Linked DNA regions of Homo sapiens. The protein of the gene in region 1 purifies or fractionates together with the protein of each later gene. This does not show direct contact. Each region holds a gene or a part of one and is shown in the gene's direction. Other genes may lie near its edges.

Region 1 (3,824 bases):
TATATGTATGCATGAATGAATAAAGGAAGGAGGGAAATAAGGAAAGAAGTAGCCTTGCTCCCTTTGTGTCTTCAGAGCCTAACCAGTGCTAGGCATAGCATAGTAGGTGCTCAGTTAATATCTGCTGGATGTTAACTGCGTGAATGTTGGATGGATCAGAGCCACTCTCTTCCACGTTGGTCTGGCCCTCCCCAGGCGCCCCTTTGTTGACACCTCGGGTGACATTGCATCTGCCCTGGCAGGTGGACGAGCAGATTCATGCCTGCTATGCACAGACCATGGCTGAGTGGCTGGGCTGCGAGGCGATCGTGCGGCAGAGGGAGCGGGAGTCCCATGCGGCCGCCCTGGCCAAATGCTCATCCGGGGCCAGCTTGGACAGCCACCTGCACCGGATGTTGCACAGGGACTCAACCATCAGCAATGAGGTGATGGGCGGCTGGCCTCGGGGAGCGCGGGGGCTGGGGAAGGTCAGGGTCTGCTTCATTGGGCTGTTCTAAGAGTGGTGAAGACTGGGTGTCTGGGGCCTGGTGACAGTCTCACCCCTGGCTTTTTCTTTAAGAGTGTGCGGTGACTTTGGAATCAGACCTGAATTCAAACTCTAGTCCCACCATTTAGTAGTTCTGGGGTTCCCTACCAGTACCTTTTCTTCTGGGCCTCAGTTTTCTGCATCTGTAAAATGGGAATAATCAGGTGTAGAGGAGGTTCGTGTACAGTCCAAACAAGACAATGTATATAAAGTGCCTGGCGCACTGCCTGACTTTCATTGATTCAACAAATGCTTATTGAGTATCTACTATGTGCAGGTACTATCAGGAATATCCTGGGATATCAGGAATGTTCCAGTGACCCAGACAGACTGGTCTGTCCTCCCAGAACTTCCAGTTTAATAGCCCAAAGTAGGATCTCAGTAAAAAGTAGGATCTCACCACCCTTGACTGAGGGTGGTGGCTCACGCCTGTAATCCCAGTACTTTGGGAGGCCAAGGCGGGTGGATCACCTGAGGTCAGGAGTTCAAGACCAGCCTTGGCCAACATGGTGAAACCCCATCTCTGCTAAAAATACAAAAATTAGCTGAGCGCCTGTAATCCCAGCTACTTGAGAGGCCGAGGCAGGAGAATCACTTAAACCCGGGAGGCGGAAGTTGCAGCAAGCCGAGATTGCATCACTGCACTCCAGCACGGGCAACGAGCGAAACTCCCTCTCAAAAAAAAGTTAATTTTCTTCAGCAGTGATGATATCAGTCATCAATTGCCACAATAACAGTGTGTAACAAACAACCACCAAAAATCAATGACTTCCAACAGTCAGCGTTTATTTTTGCTCACAACTCTGGGTCAGCTGGCAAGTTCTGTTCTTAACTGGGCTAGGCGAGGCTTATTCTGGCACCAGCTGTCCGTAACTGGTCAACTAAAACATTTGTTTATCTTGGTTGGGCTCTCGTATTTGCCTGGGGTGACTCAGCTGTGCTCCACGTGGCTCACTGCCCAGCAAGTTAACCTGGACGTGCTCTCACGGTGAAAGCAGATGCCACAGAGAGAAAGCGGAAATGCACAAGGGTGTTCTAAGCCTCTGCTGAGTCAAGTTTGTTAACATCCCATTGACAAAAGCAAGCCACATGGCCAAGTCTAGTGTCAGAGTAGGCAAGGACTATGAGGTTATAGGGCAGAAGCATGTATACAGGGATCATGGGAAAAAAAAAAGTGGAGCCATTAATAGAACCAGTTACTCTGTGAGTTGAACTGAAATATTGGCCAGAAGTCTCAATTACAGAGCAGTTAAAGGTGGGGTGCTCTAGTTGCAGAGGTGAGAGGTGGGAACCCAGAGGTCAAAGCGGTCTCTGAAGAGGCTCCAGGAAGCAGGGAGTGGTGCCCCCCTTTCATTTTACAGCTAGGAAACTGATGCTCTGAGAGAGGACTTGTGCAAGTTAGGAATAGAGATGCAACTAGACTTTCTGGCTCCCAGCCCAGCAGTCCTTCCTGCTCTGGGCCAGGGTGCAGCCTCACCCTCCCTCCCTCCTGCTCTTTCTTTTCTCAGTCCTCCCAGAGCTGCAGTTCGGGCCGCCAGAACATCCGCCTGCACAGCGACTCCAGCAGCAGCACACAGGTGACCTTGTGGAGGCCTCGCCCCCTCCCACCCACTCCTCTCCCTTCTGCCTGGGGTCATGGGGGTTGGGTGTCCGTCATCTGTAGGTCACTTTTTGCTTTATTTGTTTTAGCTTTTTATATTAGCATTAAACATTGTTTTTTGTTTTTTGTTTAGTAATGCAAGAAATATATGGATCTATCACCCCTGCAAAAAACTAAAACATTGTAGAGAAAGTCAAAGTCTGCTTTGATCGTCCTTAATCTCTGCCTGCCCTCTCTTGAAATAACACCACTATCATGAGTTTGCTGTGTTCCTTTCAAAACCTTCTGTATGCATATACATACACAGAAATATATAATCTATAGCAATGTTTGGTAGTTGTTTTTTAAATGTGTACATAAATGCCATCATATATGTTGTTCAACAACTTTCCGTTTCAATTGGTGAAAAGAGATAACTCAATCTCACTCCGTTTTTAAAGAAAAAAGCTGGCTGGGCATGGTAGTTCACACTTGTAATCCCAGCACTTTGGGAGGCCAAGGTAGGCAGATAGCTTAAGCCCAGGAGCTTAAACCCAGTCTGGGCAACATGGCAAAACCCTGTCTCTACAAAAAATACGAAAAAAATCAGTTGGGCATGGTGGTGCGTGCCTGTAGTCCCAGCTGCTCCGGAGGCTAAGGTGGGAGAATCACCAGGGCCCAGGAGGTTGAGGCTGCAGTGAGCCATGATCACGCCACTGCACTCCAGCCTGGGTGACAGAGTGAAACCCTGTCTCACACACACGCACACACAAAGCCAAGTGCAAAAACATGCATAGTGTGTTGTCACCTTTTGTGTAAGAAGAGGCAATATTAATATCTGTATATATTTGCCTCCATTTTTGAGAATGGTATGAGGAGCAACCAGAAACGAATCAGAATGATTACCGAGAGAGGAGGGGGCAGAGACAGAAGCTACATTTCCTTGAATATGCCTTGCTTCCTAATTTTGATTTTGGAGTAAAAAAAAAACTCTGGTTTTGACTCTGAAGCTAGGTAAACTTTTTACATAATTAAAATCAATTGAATCAAAAAGAAGTTTTTGAAAACACAGAAACACATGAAACTAACCATAAATCAAGTTGGTGACATAACCACACAGGGAAGAAATATTTCAGGTGACTTTGGAACATGATCTTTAACTGTGTACCCTTGATATGATCCAAGAACACAAAGAGTCACAAAAAAATCTCTAAAATGTATTCTGGAGATTTTTTTCATAGTATTTCATGTATATCTAACTTGAAAAATTGATTCATAATAGTCAACCACCTGGGTGTAAAAGTAATAGGGTTTTTTTATTTTTTGTTTTTTGGTTTTTTTTTTTTTGCCTTTTCCGTGTGTTAACTAATTTTTTGAATGAGAAAAATTATGTATACATGAGGCTGGGCACGGTGGCTCATGCCTGTAATCCCAGCACTCTGGGAGGCCGAGGCAGGTCAATGACCTGAGATCAGCAGTTCAAGACCAGCCTGGCCAGCATGGTGAAACCCTGACTCTACTAAAAATACAAAAACTAGCTGGGCATGGTGGCACATGCCTGTAATCCAAGCTACTTGGGAGGCTGGGGCAGGAAAATTGCTTGAACCCGGGAGGCGGAGGTTGTGGTGAGCCAAGATCGTGCCACTTCACTCCAGCCTGGGCAACAGAGCGAGACTCCATCTTAAATAAATAAATACATACATAAAAATAAAATTAGGT
Region 2 (3,824 bases), on another chromosome or scaffold:
TTGCGGTTTTTGCTATTTGAAAGTCGTAGCAAAAACCGCAGTTACTTTTGCAGCAACCTAATACTTGGTGTTATTTTTCCAAGACAAATAGATATGTCTAATAAATTTTAGTGACTCGCTGATTTATTAATTAATTCAACCATTGAATAAACATTTAGTAAGCATCATCATAGACCAGGCATTATGACAAGCGCTGGTGAAGTAGCTGTGGACAAACCAGATGTGCCCCTGGCCTCGTGGAGCTTATGGTCTCTCTTATATTAGATTTATAATCTTCACTGCTTGTTCTGTCCATGTCCCTCCACTTCCCAAGCCTCCAAAAGAGTAGATTTGAGCATATTTCTGTCATTGAAGGCGTTTTTTTTTTGGCAGATTAAAAATTATATAGTACAAATCTTAGAAGAAAAATTCACAGGGTTTTACTGGCTCTAATGCCCTTTTAATGATTGTTAAGATCACCCTCTGAAATTTTCTTAGGAGATTTCTTTGAGCAAAGCTGAGGAGTGTATGGGTTGGTGTCCTTTTATGTAGTGTAGCAATATGTCACTTCCTCCTCTCCCCCTAATGCCCTTGTTTTCTTTATAAAACTGTCTTGCATTTAAGTTTCCTTTCTATCATACTGTGTAAGATAGAGACCTGGGATTACGAGAGAACTATGTAATGTTACTGTACAACTCAAGGAAAAGGCCAGAGAGGAAGCAACTTTTGTTAATAATGCTACTGCAAATAATTATTAAAATAATATTCATTATCATATACCAGGCAGTGTGTCTTGAATTTCTAGTGAGGTACATATTCTTTCCCCAAGAATAATGTCTTTATTGAGATCTGACAAAGTAATCTGCAAATTGCAAGACCTTAAGTATATTGTTGACTCATTGTTTCTTTAACATGTTTTTTTCTTCTTGATTAATACATTACAGGTCACTCTGGATCACGCTCAAATTCTTTTCATGGATTTAAAATTATTTTTATAATTTAAGACATGTACAGCTTCTTTTGAATTTCAGTGTTTGGCAGTGTTCTGTTATAAGCCTCCCAGAAACATAAGCATATCGTCATTTCAAAGTGGCCTCTTTCAGAGCCTTGGCTGCTGCAGAAATTTGTCTTATGAATCATTTGAACGAATACCACTTGTTGCTAATCCTTAGCAGTCTGAAAAAAATCCTATATTATAACCCAAGGATCAGGTAGAAATATGTGTATTTTAAACATACCAAAATGTTTTATGCTCTAATTCTTTTTAAAATATCACAAAGTTTAGGACCTAATACAGTGGATAGAAAACCTTTATTTCAAAAATAGCTCTTATTATGCTTAGCTATTGTGATTATATTTTATAGTGTTACAGAAGCCTCTTGAGATACCAGTTCTCTTTCGTGCTTCAATCATATGTTAGAGTGTGGCCCTTTCTAAATGTCCCAAGACAAAACTTTACCTTGGAAAAGTCTTCTATTCCTGTAGTTGAGATAGTTACAGAAAGGGGTTAGGCAGTCTCCTTTAGAAATCCCATTCCAGAGTAGTATATCAGGATTCCTTTTCTCAGACTTTTGTAACAAATATACACTTCTGGTAGATACTTGATTTTGAAAGTGGGCCTCCACCCTTCACTCACTCACTGAGTCAACCTTAGGACTCTCAAAAAAAACACTGTGTGTGTGTCTTTGTATTATGGGAATTTTCAAACATACACAAAAGTAGTGTGAAACTATGACCTTCCATGTCATTATATTCATCAGTTATCAACATTTTGCTACTTGTTTCATCTGGTTCCCCATTCTTTTTGTGGTGGTTGTTGTTATGGTTTTTGAAGTTTTTAATCCCACATACTACATTTTTTTACTCATAAACACTTTGGTGCATTTCTTACATTTTTAATGGTAGGTAAATTTTGAGACTAAAAATTGTTATATTTACTTTATTTTTGTTTTGTGTCTGAAATTAGCATGGTTCCCATTTTTGTTCCATGCTGAGAAGTTTAGTTTTCTTAGGTTCATTTTTGTTTCTTCTTGACTTCCTCCAACACCTTGTTTTATTCTTGTCATAGCCAGCAGTCATTATACTGGTTCCAATATAAAGACAGAGCATGACAGCTACATAATTTATATGTATGGATAAGCAATTTTAAAACTTTGCTTTCATCGACCATTTTTATTTCCTGGGAATCAGATCACTTGTGTAAAATTTTTATTGTAGGCATAAATTACCACTCTCCTGTTAGAGACTGTATGAATTTACTAATAGGAATGGAGTGACATTTTGAGTATAGATTAGTAAAAGGAAACTGGGTTATTGGGATAGACCTAGGCAAACATGATTTAGATTTTATCAGAGTTAAGAATTATTTTACTTGATAAGAGTCTCATGGATGTTTGTGCTCTAAAAGTAAGATAAATTGGCTAGCTTTGAAAAATAAATAAAAGAACGTGGGAAAATCTTGATTGTTTCTTCTTTACTTATATTGCCTCTATACTCAAACCAGCCATAGTAATTTCTCCAAGACTCTGATTCAGTGACTAATATCTTTTCAGCGGAGCTCCCACCTCCATATACAGCCATTGCCAGTCCAGACGCCAGTGGTATTCCAGTAATAAACTGCCGTGTGTGCCAATCACTAATCAATTTGGATGGCAAGCTTCACCAGCATGTGGTTAAGTGCACAGTTTGCAATGAAGCTACGGTAAGTGGAGATTTCCATTAGAAAAAATATAAATTGTTATTTGACATTTTATTCCTAAAGGAAGTACTTCAATAATGTTACTTAAAAGTATATGTGGGCTGGATACAAATATGGTAATCTTTTTTCCTGTCTTTTCTTCTGTCTCTCTTTCATCATAGGATACCTCACTGTGTTTAAAGCTAACCCCATTAAGAGAATTTCATGGTGAATTTAAATATAATGCCTTTTGGCTTTTTACTTTCAAAAACTAGACTGAGCATGGCAGTTACGTATAAATACTTTCAATATCTATCCACATCACAACTACATTCATTCTTGTTTTCATTAAAATGAAAATATTGTGTACTAAACTTCATTACAGATGTAAACTTTGCCCTATTTATGTGGAAAATTATTTGAAGTTATTTTATGTCTGTAGGATGTCACTATTGTTTTTCTGGGCTTTTGTGATTATGCATTTATTATTAGCATCTGTGCCAAAGTGTTTACAAATAGTTTGACATTTTATTCAATTTAGTTGATAGTAATTTAGGAATGTTTAAAATATTGAATAACACCTTTCCTTTTTTAAAAATTGAGCTTTGGGGAGCAACTAAATTTTCAGCAGTATTTTTATAGCTTCAAGTAATAAACTGGTAAAGCATACACTGGTTTAGATGAAATATATTTCTTTCATAGTTAGGCTTTATATATTACATTTTGATCTCTCAAAATCTGCAATTAAATATTAATTTTATCTTTGATGTTTTATTTTTTTCTCTTTAGAAAAGACTAAAAAAAGTCAGCCAGTGATTATTGTGTCTTGAAGGACCACAAAACATGAATACTTGACTTCATATGTTTTATAGAAAAATCATAAAATAAAACCTTAAGTTACAAAAGCAATATATTTCATTAGTTTTAATGGAATCCTTTCCTTTTTAAACACAAACAAACTTTGACAATCTGTACTTTGGTTAATTGCTGTGTTTGCATTTTCTTCCCTTATCCAGCCAATCAAAAACCCCCCAACAGGCAAGAAATATGTTAGATGCCCTTGTAATTGTCTTCTCATTTGTAAGGACACATCTCGGCGAATAGGATGCCCAAGACCCAACTGGTAAGAGATAAAGATTAATTCATTGATTCATTCATTTGTTCATTC

Evidence for each region.
Region 2: the proteins of SGSM1 (region 1) and PIP4P2 purify together in Homo sapiens (affinity purification with mass spectrometry; one large-scale study listed by BioGRID and IntAct). This does not show direct contact.

Annotation. Positions count from the first base shown.
Region 1 is NC_000022.11:24,893,189-24,897,012, forward strand, and holds part of SGSM1 (small G protein signaling modulator 1), read left to right. Parts: intron 1-242; coding exon 243-425; intron 426-2,034; coding exon 2,035-2,103; intron 2,104-3,824. UniProt on the Homo sapiens protein: Interacts with numerous Rab family members, functioning as Rab effector for some, and as GTPase activator for others. Promotes GTP hydrolysis by RAB34 and RAB36.
Region 2 is NC_000008.11:91,020,112-91,023,935, reverse strand, and holds part of PIP4P2 (type 2 phosphatidylinositol 4,5-bisphosphate 4-phosphatase), read left to right. Parts: intron 1-2,531; coding exon 2,532-2,680; intron 2,681-3,672; coding exon 3,673-3,779; intron 3,780-3,824. UniProt on the Homo sapiens protein: Catalyzes the hydrolysis of phosphatidylinositol-4,5-bisphosphate (PtdIns-4,5-P2) to phosphatidylinositol-4-phosphate (PtdIns-4-P).